Regions from separate parts of the Homo sapiens genome. Here all the other regions are linked to region 1. Evidence: fine-mapped expression QTL. A gene starts in region 1. Each other region holds a variant in brackets. All regions are shown on one strand. Distances are between the middles of the regions.

Region 1 (5,466 bases):
TGGACTCCGGGCAGAAGCATTACTTCCAGGGAGAGTGAAGGCCCAGCGGCCATGTGTTCCCCTGATCTGGTAGAAACACCAGGATGTTATTTCTTCCTCTTAGAAGAGGCCACTTGAGTGTCAAGAAAATGTTCTCTTACAACTATTTAAGAATAAGAGGAATCACAGAATAAATATCATGATAATGGTGAATCAGGGCTTGATCAGGAGAGAGACTACACCGCAACCTGAATGGGGAAGTTTGGTGTAAAGAATTATGAACCGGCCGGGCGCGGTGGCTCACGCCTGTAATCCCAGCACTGTGGGAGGTCGAGGCAGGAGGATCACCTGAGGTCGGGAGTTCGCGACCAGCCTGACCAACATGGAGAAACCCCGTCTCTACTAAAAATACAAAAATTAGCCGGGCATGGTAGCACAAGCCTGTAATCCCAGCTACTCGGGAGGCTGAGGCAAGATAATTTCTTGAGCCCCGGAGGCAGAGGTTGCAGTGAGCCAAGATCATGCCATTGCACTCCAGCCTGGGCAATAACAATGAAACTCCTTCTAAAAAAAATATAAATAAATAAATAAATAAATAAATAAAATAAATAAATAATTATGAACGCTAAGAGGGGATTCCTGAGAGGACCCCAGTGCACACAGGATCGCAGACACAGGGAATGGTGCCGGGGCCAGCACCCACCGAGGGACAAGCAGGGAGACAGGTGCTGTCCAGGGCACACCCCATGGTCAATCTCATTTATGGCGGCAGCCTTTCCACACTCAGGGTCGGGGGGATGCACCGTGGAAGGGGCAGGTCCCTCTCTCCCATGGCTCAGCTCCTCACAGCCTGTGTTAAACCCACCTGCCCTGCAGAGGCCATGGGCACCACTGGGCACAGAGAGGAGAAGTGAGGGCCCTGCCTTAGAGGGACCTAGGGGCAGTAGACACAACTCCCTGGGAGTTTGTTGGGGCATGGTTGGTTCCATGGAGGAGAGGTGTTGGAACCCAACTCTGTAGAATGGCCAGGGCTTCCCCACTGCAGAGCCAGGGTGGGGAGTCCAGGAAAGGGAGCATTGCTCCCTGGTGCAGGCTTGGGGGAACTGGCTGCCCCCCTCCCACCTGACAACCCCATCCTACTGTTCCAGCCTGCAAGCTATGTGCAACCGCCTTTGGGGCTGTGGGACCGAGTGGAGACTAAGACTCTCCTGGAGAGAGCTGTAGGGCCGAGTCTGTGTGGGATGTGGGTGGACACCTGGGCCTGGACCATCCTCTTGGTTTGTCTTGGCTGGTGTAGGGTGTGCGTGTGTGTAAGCCAGCCCCCTGCTGCCCTGGTCAGCTTGTTTTATGACCCCTGGCCTGTGGGCAGAAGGCCTGGCTGTGGGCACCATCAGTCTCACTAGAGGCTCTGTGGCCACCCCTACACCTGCTGCCCACCCCTCAGGCAGAAGGCAGGACAAATGATCAATTTTAATTAGTTTTGACTCCTTTGAATTAATTCTGGCTGTAATCAGAATTTCTTCAGTAAAAAAGCACAGAAAGTTCTTCTCCCGAATAAGGGTCTTGTTAAATAAAGTGGGTCTTTCTAAGCCAGGAGAAGTTCAGCTCAGCTCCTGGGAAGGTAGCAGTACCTACGGCTCAGAGGAGTGGAGGGCCCATCCATGTAGGAGCCTGGGCCTGTGCCCCAACCTCAGACCAGCATGTGCCCCCAGGGGTGGTGGGTGGGCCCTGGAGGGCAGAGAGGTGCCTCTAGCTGGCTCTCGGAAGTCCTGACCAGTGACAATTCTTAAGACACCATTAAGTGTCCACTGGAGCCAGGGCCTGTGCTAGGGGCTGAGGGTGACAGAGGTGACCCATCTGGCCAAGTGACCTGTGGCTGGAGAAACTGAGGCCCTCCTTCGCCTCAGGGACCCTGACACTCTTCAAGGCCAGGTCTTTGGTGGTGCCAGATACTCTCCTGTCCCTTGGTTTGCTTGTGGCTTGGTTCTTGGTGTGTGATACGTCTCTGTGTGTGTAGTTGCCACACCCTCCAGTCTCTCTCATACACACTGTTTCCCAAGCATACACTCACAAACACACCTTGTCTCAGACTCAAACACACACATGCCACACACACACCATACATCACACACTCCATGCACACACATGCATCTACACACACCCCACATGCACATCACACACACGTACTCCATGAACAACACACACACGCACACACACAGACGCACACACACACACCCCCCAACCTCTTTTATGCACTTTCCTGACCTTTGGAGACCTGGCTCCTAGATGTATCTCTGCTCAAAGTTCCCCTCCCTGCCTGGGGGCAGCTCTGGACTCTGGTCTACTTTCGGCCAGGGCACACCTAGCCCACTCCCAGGTCCACCTTCCTCCAGTCTACCCCCAGACTCCTCTAGGCCATCATCAGCCAGCGCTTCATCCTCACCTCAGCTCCCTCCCCGGTCTACCCCCACCCTCTGCCCCTGAGCCTGGACGGAAGTTCCCCAAGTCTCTCCAGCCTGCATCCCAGCCCACCGTCAGCCGGCCCCCACGCTCACCCCAGCTCACCTCCCAGTCTGCCCCTACAATCTGCTCCCAAAAAGCTCCTTTGCAGCTCAGCACCCCAGCCCCGCCCTCAGAGCCCATCAGCCGGCACCCCACCTTACCCCAGCTTGTCCCCAGCTCGAAACCCTGCCCTCGCCCCCCTCTCACCCCGCTGAGACTCCAGCCGCCCCCATCCCTCCCACCCGGCGCGCCTGCAGGGACTGCACCCCACATCTGGAGGCAACGGGGCACGGCCGCAGGCGTGGTCTGGGGGTGCGGCCTGAGGGCGGACCCCCTGAGGCCCCGCCCCACCCCAACCCCAACCGGGCGTCCCCCAGCCGCGCCCCCAGCGGGACCGAGCGTGACCCAGCTGCGGCCGGCCAGCCATGGAGACTGGAGCGCTGCGGCGCCCGCAACTTCTCCCGTTGCTGCTGCTGCTCTGCGGTAAGGGGGCGACGGCCCGCACCGGGGGCGCCCCCACTCCTCGGGGTTCACCGGACCCGGGTGGACCCGCGCCTTCCCGCACCTGCGCCGCGGTCCTTCCCTTGCCCCGGAGCTCGGGAGGGGCGCACAGTGACCCTGGCGGGATTCCCAGGCTCTGCGGGAGGGTTCCACCCGGGAGAAGCTGAAGGCGAAGGACTCTGGCGGGCAAGGGAGGCACAGGGCCCCCTCCGGGGTCTTCTGACGGCAGGGTCCGGCAGCCCCCGGTCCTTCTAGTTGTGATGTCCCCCCACGCCCCGGTTCTGGGGTCGCCTCAGGGTGGGCGAGAAGAGGTGGACCAGGTCTGGCTCTTTACCCCTTATCCCCCAGGGTGGGCTGTCTGTAAGGTAGTGAGCTCTCTGTCCTGGCATTGAGTGCCTGCCCACCACTCACAGGGGCGTGGGCGGGTGGACTCCGGACTGGGTAGCTGGTCCTCCCAGGGCCCCTCAGTGTGTGGACGCCTGTGTGTGTCCTGGAACTGGCTGAGAGGGGAAGCGGGGCGACTCTCTGAGCCATCCTCTCCTAATGCCTTCTTCGGCAAGAAATCAGGACTCTAGGAAGAACCATTGCTCACAAAATGGAAATAGATTAAACTAAAAGCTTGTTTTGAAGTACCTTGCTAAAGAAATTATCCAAGAAAAAGTAAGAGAGAGAGAGAGAGAGAGAATGTGTGTAAAGGCTGTTGGGGAAGAGTGCTTGCTGAGGGCTGGGGTCCACTGAGTGGTGACTGAGCCTGGCCAGTTCTGGGGGGGACATTGGTGATGGAGGGCCCTGGCCTGGTGGTCCCCAGTTTCCCTGGCTGTAAGATGCAGAGTTGGGCCTGTTTTGATGATTTGGGATTTGGTACGGGAGGTGGGAAAAGGGTGGACCAAACTCAGTGGTCATTTTCCTTCCATTGAAGAGGTCTTGGTGTGCAGAACTTGTGTGGCTTCATTTGGTGTTCCAGGGCTGGAGCCTAGGATGTGGTGGATTTTGTGTTGAAGTGCAAAGGTGGATGGCAGCTTCTGAAATCAGGAGCATGCTGATTTGGGATTTCAGCAAACTTCCAGTGAGCGCCCCTTAGGTGGAGATCTTGGTCGCTATAGTGGAAGGAAGGTCCTCTCAATTCATTCTGGGAGAAGCTGAGGCTTTCCTGATCATCTCCAGTATCAAATTGAGAAGGACCACAGGCTTCCGCCTGCACAGAATCCCCCCTTAATAATCCTGTCTCTCGTGGACCCAGTTCCTGAGGGCCACTTCTTTGTCCTGTTGTGTTGGTCCTGACTGTCCCCCTCCAATGGGACATGGGTTCACGCTCCCTGGCCAGAATAGGGACCAGGTCCAGCTTCTCAGCAGACCCTCCCAGTGTTCGACTGGCCAGAGTGAGATTCAGGGAGAGGTAAAACTTGCTCATGGTCCCAGGCCGATGTGTCAGAGGTATCCGGGACTGGAACCCACATCTGCCCTGGATGCTGCTGTGTCTGGAAGGAAGGAGCTGGGTGGGTTCCTCTTGACTGAGGACTAGCTCAGGAGGACCAGCAGGGAGGGTGCAGGCCTCTGGGGCTTCTTTGAGAATTCCAGACCTTTTTCCAGAAAGCATTTGATGCTGTGTGGGGCTGTGGGGATGCGAAGTCCAGCAGTTGTCTACTCAGCAGGACACTTTGCTGTGGTGCCCAGCTCTTGACTGGACTCTTCTGGTCTGGGTGAAAATCCTGATCATGATCCCAAGATTATAAAGCACTCACTGGCCTCAGTTTCCGAGCTGCAATGTAGATGTAATAATAGCAATCTGTAAAGGGCTGCTGAGACCGTCAGTTTGATTCCATTCAGTTTAGTCCCTATCACCTTGTGTTGGGCATGGGATTGTGGGGTGGAAGGGTTCATGCTTAAACAAGGGGAGGTATGGGAAGGCACCCACCAGTGACTGCACTGGGCCTCATGAGGCTCACTCACAGCACCCAAAGATGGAGCACCATAGTGTGTGTGCCTGTGTGTGCAAGCGTATGAACATGGTACCATCGTTTTTATCATTAAATGATGTCCTGCTGCCATGTTACCTGTGGTCATATTGATTCTACTGAATCAAGTGGGCCCAAGGGCCATGGTTGGATAGCAGTAACTCTGGTGAATTAAAGACTTGGAGGTGGCCGGCCGGGTGCGGTGGCTCACGCCTGTAATCCCAGCACTTTGGGAGGCCAAGGCGGGCAGATCTCGAGGTCAGGAGATCGAGACCATCCTGGCCAACATGGTGAAACTCCGTCTCTACTAAAAATACAAAATATTAGCCGGGTGTGGTGGTGCATACCTGTAGTCTCAGCTACTCAGGAGGCTGAGGCAGAGGAATCGCTTGAACCTGGAAGGCGGAGATTGCAGTGAGCCGAGATCATGCTATTGCACTCCAGCCTGGTGACAAAGCGAGACTCTGCCTCAAAAAAAAAAAAAAAAAAAAAAAAAAAAAAAAAAAAAAAAAGACTTGAAGGTGGTGAT
Region 2 (5,466 bases), 96 kb after region 1:
TTGAGCCCAGGAGTTCGAGACCAGCCTGGGCAAAATGGTGAGACCCCGTTTCTACAAAACATAAAATAATTAGCTGAGGCCAGGTGCAGTAGCTCACGCCTGTAATACCAGCAGTTTGGGAGGCCAAGGTGGGTGAATCCCTGGAGCTCAGGAGTTCAAGACCAGCCTGGGCAACATGATGAAACCCCGTTTCTACCAAAAATACAAAAAATTAGCCAGATGTGGTGGTGTGCACCTGTGATCCCAGCTACTTGGGAGGCTGAGGTGGGAGGATTGTTTGAACCTGGGAGGCAGAGGTTGCAGTGGGCCGAGATCGCACCACTGCACTCCAACCTGGGTAACAGAGTGAGACACTGTCTTAAAAAAAAAAAATTAGCTGGGCGTGATGGCACACACCTGTGGTCCCAGATACTTGGGAGGCTGAGGCAGGAGGATCACTTGGAGGAGGAGGTGAAGGCTACAGTGAGCTGTGTTGGCACCACTACACTCCAGCCTGAGTGACAGAGTGAGACTCTGCCTAAAATAATAATAATAACAAAGAAATAGTCAATCATTGTAAGTCAGTAATACGACAGGAGAAATTGGAAATCCTTCAGGGTGAAGATTTTATTTTAGTAACATGCTTTATTTTAGCACAAATGCATACCATGGACTTGCTGGGGATGGGTTGGGGAGGGATGATACAGTCGTTATAGAAAATCATATCATATTTTATTCATTATGCTTATTCATTCATCACATGGTCACTTTGAATTCTTACCATTCCTTATATTTCCAAGATCAAATTTGTTTCTTATTATGCTAATATCCCTATAAATTCCCAGTCTCCAGGAGGTCTGAGTTGGTTCTATTATGACTTATTCCACCTGCCAGGGGAGAAACTGTTCCTGAGAAATGAAGGGACTTTCCCAGGGCTTCAGGGTTAGAGAGTGGCTGGTTTTAGACAAACCGGTGCTACCCATACTGTTAACCCAACACAGGCATGCTTATAAGGAAAGGTTAAAAAAAGTAAAAGGAACTCGGCAAATCTTACCCCGCCTGTTTACCAAAAACATCACCTCTAGCATTACCAGTATTAGAGGCACCGCCTGCCCAGTGACATATGTTGAATGGCCGCGGCTTTCTACGTCTCTAGGGGCTGTGGAGAATACGTGAGAAGACCGCATCCCCTGCTCACATGCAGGGCATACCCTACAGTGGAGCTGTATGGGGCTGCCTGGAAGCCCCCTCACCCCAGGTAGAGAAGTAACTGACTCCATGACTCCTCCAGTAGCAGCCTCCAATGTGCAGGGAGGAGAGGCACTGAGCACCTGTGCCATCCCTGGCCTCTCATCCAGAACCCAGCCCCAGGGATGGGAGTGCTCCAGGCAATAAGTGGAGAAAAGCAGTTAAGTTAAACTCCCTGGGAGAGGCTGGGGCACCGTCTCAGCCAGCTGGGGCTCATATGATGGAATACAATAGCTGACGTGGCTTATAAACGGTAGAAATTTATTTCTCACAGTTCTGGAGGCTGAAAGCCCCAGGTCAGGGTGCCAGCACTGTGGGGTGACTGGTGGGGACCTGCTTCCAGCTGGGAGACGGTCACCTTCTTGTGATGTCCTCACATGATGGAGGGGACAAGGGAGCGCTCTCGGGCCTTTTTTATGAAGGTGCTGAGCCCATTCATGGTGGCTCTGCCCTCATGACCTAATTAGCTCCAAAGGTCTCACTTCCAAATATCATCACCTTGGGGGTTAGGATTCTAACATGAATTTTAGTCCATAATGGGCATTTCTCTCTCTCTCTCTCTGTCTCTGTCTCTCTGTCTCTCTCTGTCTCTGTGTCTCTCTGTCTCTCTCTCTCTCTCTCTCTCTGTGTGTGTGTGTGTGTGTGTGTGTGTGTATGTGAGAGAGAGAGAGAGATACAGACAAACAGAGATGGGGAGGGACCAGGAGATACTCCTTCCCATTGCATCACTGATCCATGCACAGTCTTGGCTCCTGTTTAGGGGAGCAGAAGTGTTTGGCTCTGCCCTCCTTTCAGAAAGGGGTAGTTGCCTGTTTACAGTAGGTAGGGCCATGCTGGGCTCCTCCCTCCCCTCCCTTGGCTGTGGTCCCTAGGTAACCAGGAGATACCCTGCAGGTCTAGCCCTGGCACCCTGTTTGCTCTTTGTTCTGCCACATCCCTTGAGGTCTGAGGGACACTGAGGTGAAGTTTGGTCCTGGAATGCACCTGACCACCTTCTCCTGCCCTTTCCTTGCACTTTGCTTCTCTGATCTCCTGGGAGAACTCTGCCATCTGCACTCTTTTTCTTAGTCTCTTTCTCTCTCCCTGTCTCCTTCTCTTCTCTCTCAATCTTGTTTTTCTTTCTCTTTCCTCTCAATCTCTCTGTCTGTCTCTCTCTTTCTTTGCCTGTCTCTGTCTCTCTGTGTCTGTCTCTGTGTCTTTCTTTGTGTCTTTTTCTCTCTGTCTCTCTGTGTCTCTCTCCATCTTTTCCAGGGCAGACATCCTGCCTTGCCATTTCCTGCATGTGTTTCTCTTGTCCATTCCAAGTTCAGAGCAGCCAGAAACAGCAGCCACACCCCAGTACTGATCTGAGCAGAGACCAGGCATGGACTATTGGGCAAATCCTTATGGCTCACATCATAGACTAGGTCAGGAAAATATCGTTCCTCTGTTTCTTTTCTGGGATTCTCAAGGACTGTGGATGGTAGGTGGTGCCACCTGATTGGAGTAAGAGAATGGGTGTGTAGGTACCCTCCCAGGAGGGTGAGCAGATCTTAAATGATAAATCCACTTGAACATTCTAATTTCCCTAAGTCTTTTTTTTTTGAGACGGAGTCTTGCTCTGTCAGCCAGGCTGGAGTGCAGTGGCACCATCTCGGCTCACTGCAGGCTCCGCCTCCCGAGTTCACGCCATTCTCCTGCCTCAGCTTCCAGTGTAGCTGGGACTACAGGTGCACGCCGCCACGCCCAGGTAATTTTTTTGTATTTTTAATAGAGACGGGGTTTCACCGTGTTAGCCACGATGGTCTCGATCTCCTGACCTCGTGATCCACCCGCCTTAGCCTCCCAAAGTCCTGGGATTACAGGCGTGAGCCACCGCGCCCGGTCTTCCCTAAGTCTTTGAATCCCT[C/T]CCTCTATAGCATGTCAAGGCAGGTCCATCATTTCAAGCTCACTTACTGTAGGCCACCTTCTGGCCCGTGTTGCAGTCAACCAACCAAACAGAACCTTTTCTAACTCCTTGAGCTGCAACATTAAATAGAGAATCACTGCTTAGGGAGCCCATATCAATAAATTCAGCCTGATCCAATCCAACTTTTTATGTTTCTTTCACTATTATCCAACACCTTTAATATCCATTTCTACGCATGCTTCCCAGACTTCTGTCTGTATAAATTAGAAAACCAAAGTATTTTTATTATTATTATTATTTTTTGAGTCTCACTGTCACCCAGGCTGGAGTGCAGTGGTGTGATCTCAGCTCACTGCAACCTCCGCCTCCCCAGTTCAAGTGGTTCTCATGCCTCAGCCTCCAGAGTAGCTGGGATTACAGGCACCCACTACCATGCCTGGCTAATTTTTGTATTTTTAGTAGAGACGGGGGTTTCACCATGTTGGCCAGGCTGGCCTCGAACTCCTGACCTCAAGTGATTCGCCCACCTTGGCCTCTCAAAGTGCTGGAATTACAGGTACAGGCATGAGCCACTATCCCTGGCTAAAGTGGTTCTTTGGGAGTGCAGCACACCTCCTCATGGGGCACACTTTGATCCTTACTGTTAAAGGCATGCTGGGACTCTGGTCTAGTTCTAGCTCTAGAAGCAAAAAGGGGTGTTGGGGTTGGGTCCCAAGGAGAATCAGCACTGTTTTGCATGGCAGCTGCCTCAGGGGAGGCCTTTGCAGCTTCCCCAGGCAATGCAGAGTTAATCCCCTCAGTCAGGGCTGGAGAGGCTGCTTCTACTGGCAAGGAAGACTTACCAGAACACAGAGGATCAATGTCTCCAGTTTCATCAGGGTCTTCCCACATGTCCCCATGAAGTGGCTACCTTGTCTGGGGTATATAACTGGGGTTCGTCATCTTGTGCCAGGGAAATTTAGGACACGAACACTCATGAGGAGTTTAGGAGTGGAGGCTTAATAGACAGAAGAAAGAGAAAGGAGAACAGCTCTCTCTATTGAAAGAAGGGACTTCCAAGCGGAAAGACTGGCTGGCAGGGGATGTGTGGGATTTTATAGTCTGGCTTGAGGAGAGGGTGTCTGATTCACGTAGGGCTCACAGATTGGTTCCATCAGGTATGACGTTTACATGGTGTGTGGGGAAGGCTGGTCACCGCACCCTAGTCTTACAAGGCAAATAAACTCTCCCCTTGGCCAGCAGCCATCTTGTCTGCTCCTTACTGTACAGGTGGCTGGCAAAGAAGGGAAGTTGGAGCCGCCATCTTGAACATGTCTAGTCCCTAGTTCCTGCCGGCATTCACCCGTGCAAGCTCCCAGCCTGCTTGTCTATGTCTGCAGCTCAACATTACAGGCTGCTCTTTGTTAGAAAATGATTTGGGGCTGCTTTTCATTAAAAACAAAATCTTACCGAGGACTCCCATGCCCTCACTATTTGCCTAAGTGATTTGTTCTTAGACGGCCACAGAGTCTCAGTAATGCCTCGGTAATAACTCCTGTATCACCCATACCAATTTTCAGTATCATTTTCTTCCCAATCAATTTCTCATTTTAAGAGTAGACATCCTGCTTGGTTGTCCAATTCAATTTGTGTTGTAATTCAGCCACTTGTAGGGTGTGATTCAATTATAGTTTTGGTTTTCAGCAATCTCAGCTCTGCAGCTACAGAAAATAAGGGTCTCTTTCAGGGCAGGGATAGAAGCTTTCAGGTCATTTATGCGGAGCTTGAGCTGAACATTTGATTTCCCGAGCTCATCCTTTTCTTTCCCCGCTTTGTCCAGTGACATCAGGAGCAGTCAACCAATCTCATTATACTTGTTAGTTTGATTAAAAATGTTTGATGGTACCATATGCATGACCACTCAGATCCTTGGCTCTTAATAAATTTTTGATTATGAGTATTCAACAGTGATGTTTTACCTAACTCTACTGTTACATCACACCATGGACTATCTGCATTCTCTCTACTATTAGGAGTAGTCATCAGTGCCTTTAAAGGTAATCAGCTTAGAGAGCCAATTCCAGAAACCCCAGAAGCAATTCAGAAAGCTCCTGAAGATTTAAGATCTTAAGGATTCTCAAAATGCTTAAGATTCTGTTCCTCTAGAACCATCCTTGGTATTAAAATCTGTAGTAGTCCATATAAACAGAATCAATAGGTGGTAGAAATCTGTCTGTATCTGTATTTCTCCAGCTCTATCTCGATGTCCATCTATCTATATTTATCTATAGACAGAGGAATTGGCTCATGTGATTATGGAGGCCAGCAAGTCTGACATCTGCCGGGCGGGCCAACAGGCTGAAGACTCAGGG
Region 3 (5,466 bases), 83 kb after region 1:
CCATTTGGATGACGCTCCTCCTCTCTGAGCCCTCCAGGTAATCACAGCTGTCAGCTTTGGCTGTGCCCAACTGCTCCCTGGGTCTCCTTCAGCCTTCTCTGTTGTCTCTTCTTTAAGAACAAGGTGTTCTTCCGAGCAGACCAGTTCTCCATCAGGCACCAAGGAGTCCCTCCATGAGGCCCGACAGACACACATCTGCTCTTTTCCCACCGAGTTCACCCACTGTCCCGTGCTCATGCCCATTTCTGATGTCCATCCTTGCTAGTCATTCCTTAGGCTCTTCCACTATTCAAATCATTTCACTAAGGAGTTCTGGTCTTTCAAATATCTTTTCTTTTAAAGACTTTTTCTGTTATTTAGGTTGACATATCTACCTGCCTACCTACCTTCTACCTTCTAGCTGTATTTATCCAGTATTTCCATTTTTGTTTCAAACTATGCATTCATTGTTCATGAGGACTGAAAAGAATCGAATTTGGATTTGCAGTGACCTGCATTTGTGATTTCAGACTTTGTTCTTTAGGTTTCTCCCCATCGTTGCTGCACATTTCTCTCCTCTGCCCTGGCTCTCTCTTCTCTCTACCTTTGAGGCTCCATGAAAAATTCACCCCCCACAGGTTCCACTGTAAATAGGCTCTCGGGAGGTGTCGGTCTGTGGCAGGCCAATTCTCCGACAGTTACACAGACAAATTTCCACAGCACTGCCTTAACATTGAGCAAATAATTAAACCTGGGGAAACTGATGCCCAGACATCAAAGCTAGAAAGGAAACATATGGTCAGTAGGAGCCTTGCACAGACTTTTCCCTAACCTGGAGCAAGTCAAAATAACGGAGACAGCCTTCCATTCCTCGTGCCAGGACCTGTCTCAGGTCGGCAAAATCTGAGATGAGTCAAGGGAACACAGGCAGCTGTTTAAATAGATTTATTAGAGAATTGAAGGCAGCTGTCCTGACCAAGCTGTAAATGAGATAGCTAGAAATAATCACTCCGGTACCACAGTCCTCACTAATTAGAATTTAGGAGACAGGCCTTGAAGGTACTAGGGCCCTCACAGCCTGATCAGACTTAGAAAGCATTTTTTTTTTGGCCTCTGACCTTCTAGTTAAAACAAAATTAGTTACCTGTAGACTTAGGCAAATGTGATACCGCTCATAGGCACATGACCCTAACCTGTATAAGCACTAAGAAAATTGTAACACTTTGAGTTGGTCTGGTGGAATTATCTCTGGCCTTCTCCCTATAGCTGGTTACAGCAATAAATTCCCTTCTTTCCTAGTTTGTCTGCTTCTCATTACTGGGCCATAAGAAAACTCAGCCGGACTCAGTTTTGTTCCTGGAACAAGTCCACAGGGAACAACCTTTTTTGCTGAAAGTGAACTGTGGGCCCAGCTGTGTCTTGCTGCTGGGAACATCATGGGGACTGGTCTAGCCCCCTCAGCGCCCTGGCCTGGTTGAGCCTCCTCTTCTGGGCAAATATGCCTTCAGCATCTCAGAAGAGATACATTCCATTGGTTACTCATTCCCGTGGAGTGGGTTCTCCTGCCTGACAGCTTCACCAAGAGTCTGGGAGTGGTGCCAGTTGCCACGGACGGGCTACAGGCTCATCCCTGAGTCAGCCACCATTCAGAGTGAAGGGAGTTCATGGTGGGCACAGCCCTGAGCTAGGGGATGGGGTCAGCCCTCGGGACACAGGCACTGGGGATGCCAGGCAGGGAAGAACACGTCTTAACTTCTAGAGGGAAGTGTAAAGTGGACAACCTTTTTGTGCACAATTCAACTTCTTTCTTAAATTGGCCCCCTTGCACTGCTAATGTATACTCTCTTTTTTCTTTGCTTAAGAAGATATAGTCCAAGCACTGCTGGGAAAATATTTTGTTTCTTTGATATTCACAAGAAAATTTCCTTTTGCACACACAAAATATAAAGTCAATAGTTCTTTTATTCATATTTTTAGAAGTCAAGATGTTTTCTTATTTTTATTTTTTAAGGAGTGAATTTCAAAATGTTGAAAAGTCATGTTCTCATATTTGGTTGTGAGCTCTTTAAATATAGTAATTTATGGAGGAGGAGGTCTAGTTGGGTGTTAGTCAATATTATTTCAAAATTATTACAAAATTATTACTTAAACATTCCTTCACTATGTAAGCACAATAATCGCATCTAAGTGCAGCCGCCACTACCCCTCACTGGGCGGGACTCCTGGGCCCAAGGCTGTCTCTGTCAACTCCTGTCTCATTTCCTGGGGGCCCCGCCCTTAGCGGTTTTCCAGTAGATATAAATGTTATTTGCTCTATTGTTATATCTATTTTATTAAAAGCAAAACTTCCTCAGTTTCCTGCTAGCTTGTTTTTAAAAAAGGTTTCTACAATTTATACAACATTCCATTTAAGAGTTTTTTTCTGAGTTAGGAAAGGAAGTCTCCCCTTCCGCTTGGTTCAGAATTAGAGAGACACTCCCCTGCCCCACCTCACTGAAATTCATTTGTTTATCTCATTATTTCAGCTGCAGTTTTCTAGAGATATG[C/T]AAACCACCAGAGTAAAAATTATTAAATGAGAATGTCCCCCAGCAATTAAGGGGAGCAACGTGGGGGAAGGGTAAGTGCATTCACTAGGGGAGACAGCCTGCCTTCCTATGATAGCGGGAAAATGGCATTGGATAATCCCTCCCAAGTCTTATTTCTGGGAAAAATTAATATCTTTGACACTAAGCTTATTGGTTTCTAGTCTTTACCTCTTAATTTATCTTTCTTCCCAAGATTTGTCCTTAAACAAAGCAGATAATAAAGTACACATGATGCGATGGCAGTGTGAACAATTCAGGACGTGAAATAGAATTCCACCATCCAGGTGAGCAAGGCTCATGACTGAAATGGCACTCGGGCAGCCCCAGCAGCAGGGCTGGGGTGAGCCTGACAGGAGCAAGGACCCTCGGAGAGTCTCCCCATGCCCAGGTGGGATGCCCAGGGAAGAGAGGGTGTCCCAGAGGGGCTGGAGCTGAGAGGAGAGTACAGAGACCAGACCATGTGGACAGGTTTGGAGCTTGCTGGTAAGAAGAAGACCACCAAGGATGCTTGAACAGAGAGGTGAGCTTGGAGATCAGACCATGCTGATGGGCTTGGAGGGGCAGGCAGGGATAGAGAGTGTTCAAGGCATGTGTGAACAGAAGGTGAAGAGAGAGCAGCCTTAGGGAGGGAGTGGGTCCAGCCGTCGGGGAAGGAGCATCCCTGAGAAGGCAGGCAGAAGTGCGAGGTGGAGGCCAGGTGGTGTGGATGGGGCAGGGATGATTCAGCAGAGTTGATAGGAGGGCCACACCCTGCCCAAGGGCGGTGGAGGGGAAGGGAGCTTCCAGTCTTTGATTGTACTCCAGGGACATGGAAAGACTTGCTCTTGGGTCTTTGCCGGGGAAATGGTTATAAGGGCCAGCATGGGGCGAAGTGGATCCTGGTGATCCCTGGTGGCAAGTGACCAGTGGGCCAAGCCCTTGGAGGAACAAAAGAAGTTACTTTAAGGGAGCAGGGGCGGGGAAGGAATTTTGCCTGGAGGTGCCTGACACCCTGGCATGGAGAGCAGGTGGGGCACCCCATGCCTTGAGAACTGGGGTCCACACATTAAGGATGGCTCTGGGAGTGAGCAGGATGGAGGAGGGGTGTGGAGCCGCCTTCTGAGAAGCTTGCCCTGTGGCTTTTTCTTCCGTCTCCCTTCAGTCTCTGAGTGCTGTTTGGCCCCAGCAGGTGCCTTGCTTGTCTCTCTGTTGAGCACAGCAAACCCCTTCCCTCGTTGTCCACTCAGCCACCTCGAATCACCATGGAGCCTGCCTGAATGGCCACTTGCTGGGGTTCCTGGTTGGACCTAGCTGGTGAGGCCCCACCACTGCCTCCCTATGATGCTGATTGCAACAGAAACCACTGGCAAAATAAAAGTACAATTACCCAAGGACTCAGAGAAGTAAACAAAGCCACTGAATGTGGAATAGTCAAAACTTGATTTAGAGACCCACAGAGTGAGTTAGTTCCCCATGTTTTTTTCTTTGCTCTCTCATTCTGAACCCAAGGGCTGGTTCCAGGTGCAGAAATGTGCAGTGGCAGCAGAGACCAAAACTCCAACAGAAACCCCGTCTTTCCAGCCAAAGGAAGAAGGATAGGGCCTCTAGTTCCCATGAATGCGGAAGATCTTTGCTCTCCCTCTTTGCTGGAGCTGTGGAGCTTTGTGCTGAGCTGATGTTAGCAGTTACAGCTCTGAAAGAAACCCTGCCCTCTCCACTCAGCCAAACCAGGAAAAGGAGCCCTGGCAGGAGGGTCCCTCACCTCTGTGGAGGGCTGCAGTCCAGGGCTCACCTCTGAGCTGTGCGTATGTAAGACAGAGCAAAGGCTTTGCAAGCTGAGCAGAGATCAGAGCCACTGAAGGAAGTGAGGAGAGCGGATGGCTGGAAGCCGCTTGGACTGGCTGCCTGAAAGCAAGCAAGCAAGCAAGCAAGCAAGCAAGCAAGCAAGCAAGCAAGCAAGCAAGCAAACAAACAAACAAACAAAAAACAGCATCCTCTAGGGGGATCTAGAGTCTAGATGACATAATATTAAAATGTCCAGGACTCTATTCTGAGGAGGTGACACTGATGGCCAGACCTAAAGCTCAGAAGGTGAAGGGTATGCTTGTCAGGCGCACAGCCTGGGCAAAGACCCTGAAGTGCTGGTTGGTGAAGTGCGCTGAGGTCTCTACAACAGGCAAGGCTGAACAGGGCCTGGTTGGCTCAGCCCTGTGGGTGTGGTGAATGGGTGCTGGCTCCAGGCTGCAGCTACCTACCTGTGTCCTGCAGGGCCCAGGAGGTGGTGCCCATTCTCTGCTCTAGGTAAGGGCATACCTTCTGGTGTGTTACCCTCCAGCTGTTTGCTTTTTTTTGGACAGGCTGTTCTTGTCACTGGAGTGGTAAAGTGCAGAGAGCCCATTGAGCCTGGGAGACGGAAGAAAGGGGGCCACCTGTCCTGGTTGGTTCTACACCCTCTGTCACTGTGCCCGGGCAAGTGTCCCCTGAGGGTCATCAGGCTCACAGGGCTGAGCTAAGTGTTCTGATCCAAAACCTCCTAGGAAGGACAAATGTCTGCTGTACTCACATTTCCCCGGGACCTTACCGAAAAGGCGCTGAGGGATACTAGGTTCCTCATGTGTGTGTGCACATGTGTGTGCATGTGTGTCTGTGTGTATTTGAGTGTCTGTGTATGCATGTCTCTGTGTTTTTTTTGTGTACGTGTGTCTGGGTGTATCTCTGTGTGGATGTTTGCGTGCATCTGTGTCTGTGCATGAGCATGGTGTGTGTCTTTGTGTGTGTGTGTGTGAGTGCATGTTCATGTGCATCTGTGTGTCTGTGCCCACATACATGCATGCCTCCGTGTTTCTGTGTGTGCTTTGCATGTGCGTGTATGCCTCTGTATGTAGGACTTGGACGCAGACATTTGGGATTATAAGTAAACTCT
Region 4 (5,466 bases), 54 kb after region 1:
CTCTCTATTCTACAACCTGAAAATTCTCCTAAGACAGGAAGCTGGGGCATCCTAGGGCTCATCTTGCTTGTTTTCCAGCTCTCAGGGACCATTGTCCTTCATTATTTGATGTCCAATATTTTGAAAACGGTTGTATTTTATAAATTGTCTCTCCTTTCCTTCCTCCCTCCCTCCTTTCTTCCTTTCCTTTCTTGCTTTTTCAGACTGGCAGGTAACTACATTTCCTGTCACTGCACCTTGACTTGCAGCATATATCCTAGTCTTATAATCTCCTCTTCAATGCCTGCATTTCCTATTGTGTTTCTTTCTCAGGAAATGGATCCATCTTTTATTAAACTCTCTAACCCAGAGCTGAAGAATAATACATGACTCCTCCCTCTCCCAGATTCCACACCCATGTAGTCCCCAAAGTTTATTCTTTCTACGGCTTTAATCCTTTCTTTCTTTGTTCCTTCTGCCACGGGGCTAGTTTAGACCAGTGTATTTTCTCATCTGGACTATTACATCTTCCTGTTCTCTCTTCTCAACCCCTTCACATCTCTACTGAGATTCTGCCTCTTCTTGTATTCAGTGAGTGACATAGTCATCCACCAAGTTAGCTAAGGCAGAAACAGGAGTCGTTCTGATTTTTGTCCTTTCTACTAAGCCCAATACCTAGGATATAGTAGGTGTCAATGGGATTATTTTATTGAAATAACTTTTACACAGGTGAAGAGATGTTCAACCTCATTAAAATAAGAAATAACACAATTTAAACTGTATGAAGTTGTCATTATTCTTTATCCGACTGGCAAAAGTCTAAAGGTGGCTGGGTGTGGTGGCTCATGCCTGTAATCCCAGCACTTTGGGAGGCTGAGGCGGGCGGATCACCTGAGGTCAGGAGTTGGAGACCAGCCTGACCAACATGGAGAAACCCCGTCTCCAATAAAAATACAAAATTAGCCGGGCGTGGTGGTGCATGCCTGTAATCCCAGCTACTCTGGAGGCTGAGGCAGGAGAATGGCTTGAACCTGGGAGGCGGAAGTTGCTGTGAGCCGAGATCGTGCCATTGCACTAAATCCTGGGCAACAAGAGCGAAACTCTGTCTAAAGAAAAAAAAAAAGTCTAAAGGTGTGATAATACACTGTGTCAGGGAAGGTGCAAGGAAAAAGTTACTCTCATATGTTGCTGCTGGGGGTATAAATTGGGACACTGTTTGTGGAGGGCAATTTGGCAGTATCTATCGCACAACATTGGAGGCCAGGCATAGTAGCTCATGCCTGTAATCCCAGCACTCTGGGAGACAGAGACAGGAGGATTGCTTAAACTCAGGAGTTTGAGACCAGCCTGGGCAATGTAGGGAGACCACAACTCTACAAAAAAAATTTAGCTGGGCATGGTGGTACATGCCTGTAGTCCCAGCTACTCAGGAGGCTGAGGTGGGAGGATGGCTTGAGCCTGGGAGGTTGAAGCTGCAGTGAGCTGTGATCGTGCCACTGTTGCCTGGGCAACAGAGTGAGACGCTGTCTCAAGAAAACCCAAAATCCAAAACCAAAAAACAAAAACCACTGGAAATGCATATACGTTTGACTCATCAATTTCACTTGAAGAAATTCATCTTACTGATACACTTGCACATATATATCTGTAAGGATATTTATTGCAGCAAAAGCTAGAGAGCAACTTAAATGTTCAGGAACCGAATTCTAGTTAAGTACAAATGCAATGTGGTCCATTTGATGCGTGTTGAGTGGGGATAGTCTTCCCTGTGTGTTATCGGGTGAAAAGACCCAGGTGCAGAGACGTTATGCTTCGTGGCCCCTCCTAGACCCACTCAGTGAGGGGACAGATGCCTGGGGTATGGGCGTGGAAAGAATACCCACTCTTCATGATATGCCTTTTTGTAGTCCTTGAATATTAAACCATGTACATGTATTATCTATTTCAAAAATGAGTATTTAAAAATGTGTTGCTGAAACCTATTGAATTCCCCTAATAGCCCTCCCCCAATGCCACATCCAATCAGTCTTCAAACCCTATTGATTCTACCATCTAAATTTTTCTCAAATGTGTTCCCACCTTCTCTCCATCCTCTTTCCCATCTCTGCCTCCTACTCTGCTGCAAGGCCCAATTTAAAGATTTCCTCATCTGTAAAGTCTCCCTGACCTCCTCCCACCAGTATGAGTTCTGTTCTAGACACATTAGGTTTGAGGTATGTTGGGTTCACATCTAAATCTGAAGCTTAGGTGAGAGATTTAGGCCAAGAGCTAGATGTGGGAGTCATTAGGTACATTTTGTGACTGCATTCTTGAGCGCTTGAGTTAATGCGTGGCTACCAGAAATGACAGGATTTTTGTCTGGGACTGCAGAGTGGAAGCTGTTGTTTCTGGGACAGAGTCTCATTGTTAGGTGTAGTTGCTCCCAGACCTTCAATTTGATATTGGTCTCTCAAACAGTTGCAGGAGCTATAAAACACACCAAGTTATATCTAGCAGGATTTCCTGTTCTTGCCCAGGGGGCCACACTACATGTGATTCCCCTAAAATTAAAGGATATTATCCTGGAAGCCCCACCTATGCCTGGCACCGTGCAGGACTTGACAGAGAGGAAGCTCATTAGAAGAAGGTGGGTTTCCCTCCATTGTCTCCTGAGA[T/C]GTTCCCAAGAGCTTTCATTTGAAAAGTGTCCACTCATGACGCAACTGCTGTGTGATCCCCACTAAGGTCAGCTTGGGCTGTGTGGGCAGCAGCTTTGAGGGAAAGCTCAGATGATCGTCTGACCTGGTGCCTTCACTCTGTGTGGCTCTGATGTCTGGATGTAGGAGAAAGCTTGGCACTGCCCGGGGATTGACTGAGGGCCTGAGAGGGTAGTGACTTTTAAACATTGGTGTTTACAAGTCAAGGCGGAGCCATTCTAGGACATGAATTTTGAATGTAAAATCCTCAAATTTGTCCTGGATGCCTACCATTGCTTCATGTGATGGCCATACTTTCTGCCCTGGGAATGAGTAGAAGCCCTGAGATCTGACACATCAGACTGAGGACTGGCATGGGAATGGCTGCTGCTGTGGGAGTGCTGAGAAGTCACCTGTCTTGGGCCATTTGCTCATTTGGTTTCCTCCTTCCTTCTCCTCTGGCCTAATTAACATCTCATCCTCCCGTTCTGAGCTCCTCACCTCCCCAGAAAAGCTGATAGGCCCAAAGTCTTCTGTTTCACATGCCCCCTGTAGCATGAAGTATACTGGTGGCCATTCAAAACATTAAACCAATGAATTTTTATTTCTCCCCAGATCATGTAGTCCTGTGGCTCCCACCTACTGATTTAATAACACTCAGATGGTGGGTAGGACACAAATGCCATTGCTTGGCTTTGAGTTTTGAGACTGACTAGGATTTCTAGTGAGGCAAGAGTCTAGCAGGCCAGGCTCCATTGTGCTAGGACAGGGAGGTAGAAATTTCACACCTCCCATTTTGTGTGGAGCTTGGAGGTCTGAGGACACAGGGCATGATACGAAGAAGGGGAAATAGGAACAGAGGGTGCAGACATGGGCAGATTCTGGCAGATTGCCCTGTATGACCCCAGTCCTTCTCCCCTTTCTTCCCCAGTTGGGAGAGAACCCCAGGCGGGTGGTAGAAACTCATGGATGGGAATTTTGTTAAGTGTGGTGGAGTAACATTCATTTCCCCAAATTCCACTCAATGAACAGAGAAGGAACATACAAGGACAAAGAGAATAAAAAAGGGAATGACAGCCAAGGAGAGATGTCAGCAAGATTTTGGGAGACAGAAAGTGGCTGAACTTTGCAGAGTGAGGGAAGGTGAGACCTACAAACCTGGGTGGGCCAGTGGGGAGCAAGCCATGGGGCCCCAGACCCCAGAGAGGCTCAGAACTGGAGGGAAGTGAGGACGCTGGCCCAGGTGGGCTGTGGGCTGGTTAAGTCCCTGAGCCTTGTCCCACCCTACAGGAGACCTGCTGGGGTGGAAGGTGAATAAGTGAGACTGTGAAAGGTGAGCTCCAGCTGCTTTTCTTGCTGGGCTTCTAGAATGTTCCATTCCTCCATATGCAGACTGGAAAATCCCCCTTCCTACGCTGAGAAAACTGATCAACTCAGAGGACAGAGCTGTGGATGCTGCCCTCTGGGGCTCCCCTGGGAGGTTGTGGGGCAGGATGTGATTGTCCCATCCATGGCACCTCAGTGCCCAGGCCCCGCCCTCTCCTGGGGAGCTTCCAGCCAGTGTTCTAATGTTCTCCCCTTAAATATTCACATTCAGCCAAGAATCGGCTGACTTCAAGGAGAGCCTCCAAACTGAACAACAGAGACTGAAGCAGACAAAGCAGACAGCAGTAGCAGCACTAGAAGGGCTATTCTAGGCGGGGCAGGAGCAGACGTCACATCCAAATGAGCAGGATGCCTGTGAACAGGCGTTCAGAGGACAAGAAAGAGATCATAAAAATGAAATGCCAGGGAGAGCAAAAACATCCAGTTGAAGGGTTGAATGTGAACGCTCTCCCTTTTGTGGCTGTCCCCAGTGCCCGGGACCCCGTCTCGCTGCTGCTGTGTGTGCGGTGAAGGGGGTGCTGTCAGCCATTGGAGGAAGCAGAGGTTCCCCACACTTCTCAGCAGGCTCGGCAGCCGCCCCACCCTCATGGGCATTTGGAAAGAGGGGATATTTATGTTTTCCAGGTGCCACAATGGAGGTAGATAAGGGGATGGGAGTGAGTGTTGGGTCCATCAACCAGTCCTGTTGCACAGGCCTAGAGTGCCTTTTCTTGGCCATTCTCCTCCTTTTATCATCATTGACCTGGGCTGTGCTCAGTGCCCTAGGGCAGTTAATCCTGTGATGAGCAGCATCCTCTATGGGCATTTGAGTGAAGCTCTCTGAGAGTCTCTTTAGGATGTATACCCAGAAGCTGAATTCCTTAATTTGCTGAATGCCACCATATTGCTTTCCCAGATGGCTGAAACCAGTTCCCTCTCCTCTTGATGGGGAGGAGGATTCCTGCTTCTTCACATCTTAGCCAACACTTGGTATTATACACGTTTCTAGTTTTTTTGTGTGTGGGATTCTGTTGGGTATAAAGTGGCACCTCACTAAAAGTTATTCTTTATCTTATTACTAGTAACTGTGATTATTTCTTCATATACTTGTTACCATTTGGGCTTCCTTTTCAGCAGGTGCCTGTTCATCACCTGGCTTTTTATTATTCATTTATAGGAATTACTAATATAGTCCAGATAGTCCAGATTTTACTCTTTTGTCAGTTTTAGATAAGGCTGTCATCTGTTAATTTACAAATGATGTTTTTCACTGAACCATACTCCTTAATTTTTTTTTTTTTTTGAGGCAAGATCTCACTCTGTTGCCCAGACTGGAGTGCAGTGGTGCAATCATGGCTCACTGCAGACTCACCCGACCTGGGCTCAAGTGATACTCCTGCCTCAGCCTCCCAAGTAGCTGGGACTATAGGCACATGCCACCATGCCTAAT

Which allele goes with the higher level. Alleles are on the strand shown, and positions count from the first base shown. SD is a standard deviation of normalised expression in the study named. Not every link is listed here.
For the expression in tibial nerve of the gene that starts at base 2,869 in region 1, C is the low allele of the variant in region 4 and T is the other (small effect, 0.23 SD a copy in GTEx).

Evidence for each region. PIP is the estimated chance that this variant, and not a neighbour inherited with it, causes the effect. A credible set is the group of variants that fine-mapping cannot tell apart.
Region 2: its variant is the best candidate, but not a certain one, in a credible set for the expression of RAMP3 in whole blood (INTERVAL, PIP 0.57).
Region 3: its variant is the best candidate, but not a certain one, in a credible set for the expression of RAMP3 in whole blood (TOPMed, PIP 0.68).
Region 4: its variant is the best candidate, but not a certain one, in a credible set for the expression of RAMP3 in tibial nerve (GTEx, PIP 0.81).

The regions. Positions count from the first base shown.
Region 1 is chr7:45,154,923-45,160,388 of GRCh38, forward strand. RAMP3 (receptor activity modifying protein 3) reads left to right here and starts at 2,869. Exons shown (of 3, transcript NM_005856.3): 1 at 2,869-2,964. The coding sequence starts at 2,907.
Region 2 is chr7:45,251,009-45,256,474 of GRCh38, forward strand. No RefSeq gene overlaps it. Among named protein-coding and RNA genes, the nearest start is that of RAMP3, 96 kb to the left of the region's middle. The variant C/T (reference allele first, on the strand shown) is at 3,116.
Region 3 is chr7:45,238,136-45,243,601 of GRCh38, forward strand. No RefSeq gene overlaps it. Among named protein-coding and RNA genes, the nearest start is that of RAMP3, 83 kb to the left of the region's middle. RefSeq lists enhancers at 3,085-3,586, 3,587-4,086. The variant C/T (reference allele first, on the strand shown) is at 2,526.
Region 4 is chr7:45,208,630-45,214,095 of GRCh38, forward strand. No RefSeq gene overlaps it. Among named protein-coding and RNA genes, the nearest start is that of RAMP3, 54 kb to the left of the region's middle. The variant T/C (reference allele first, on the strand shown) is at 2,634.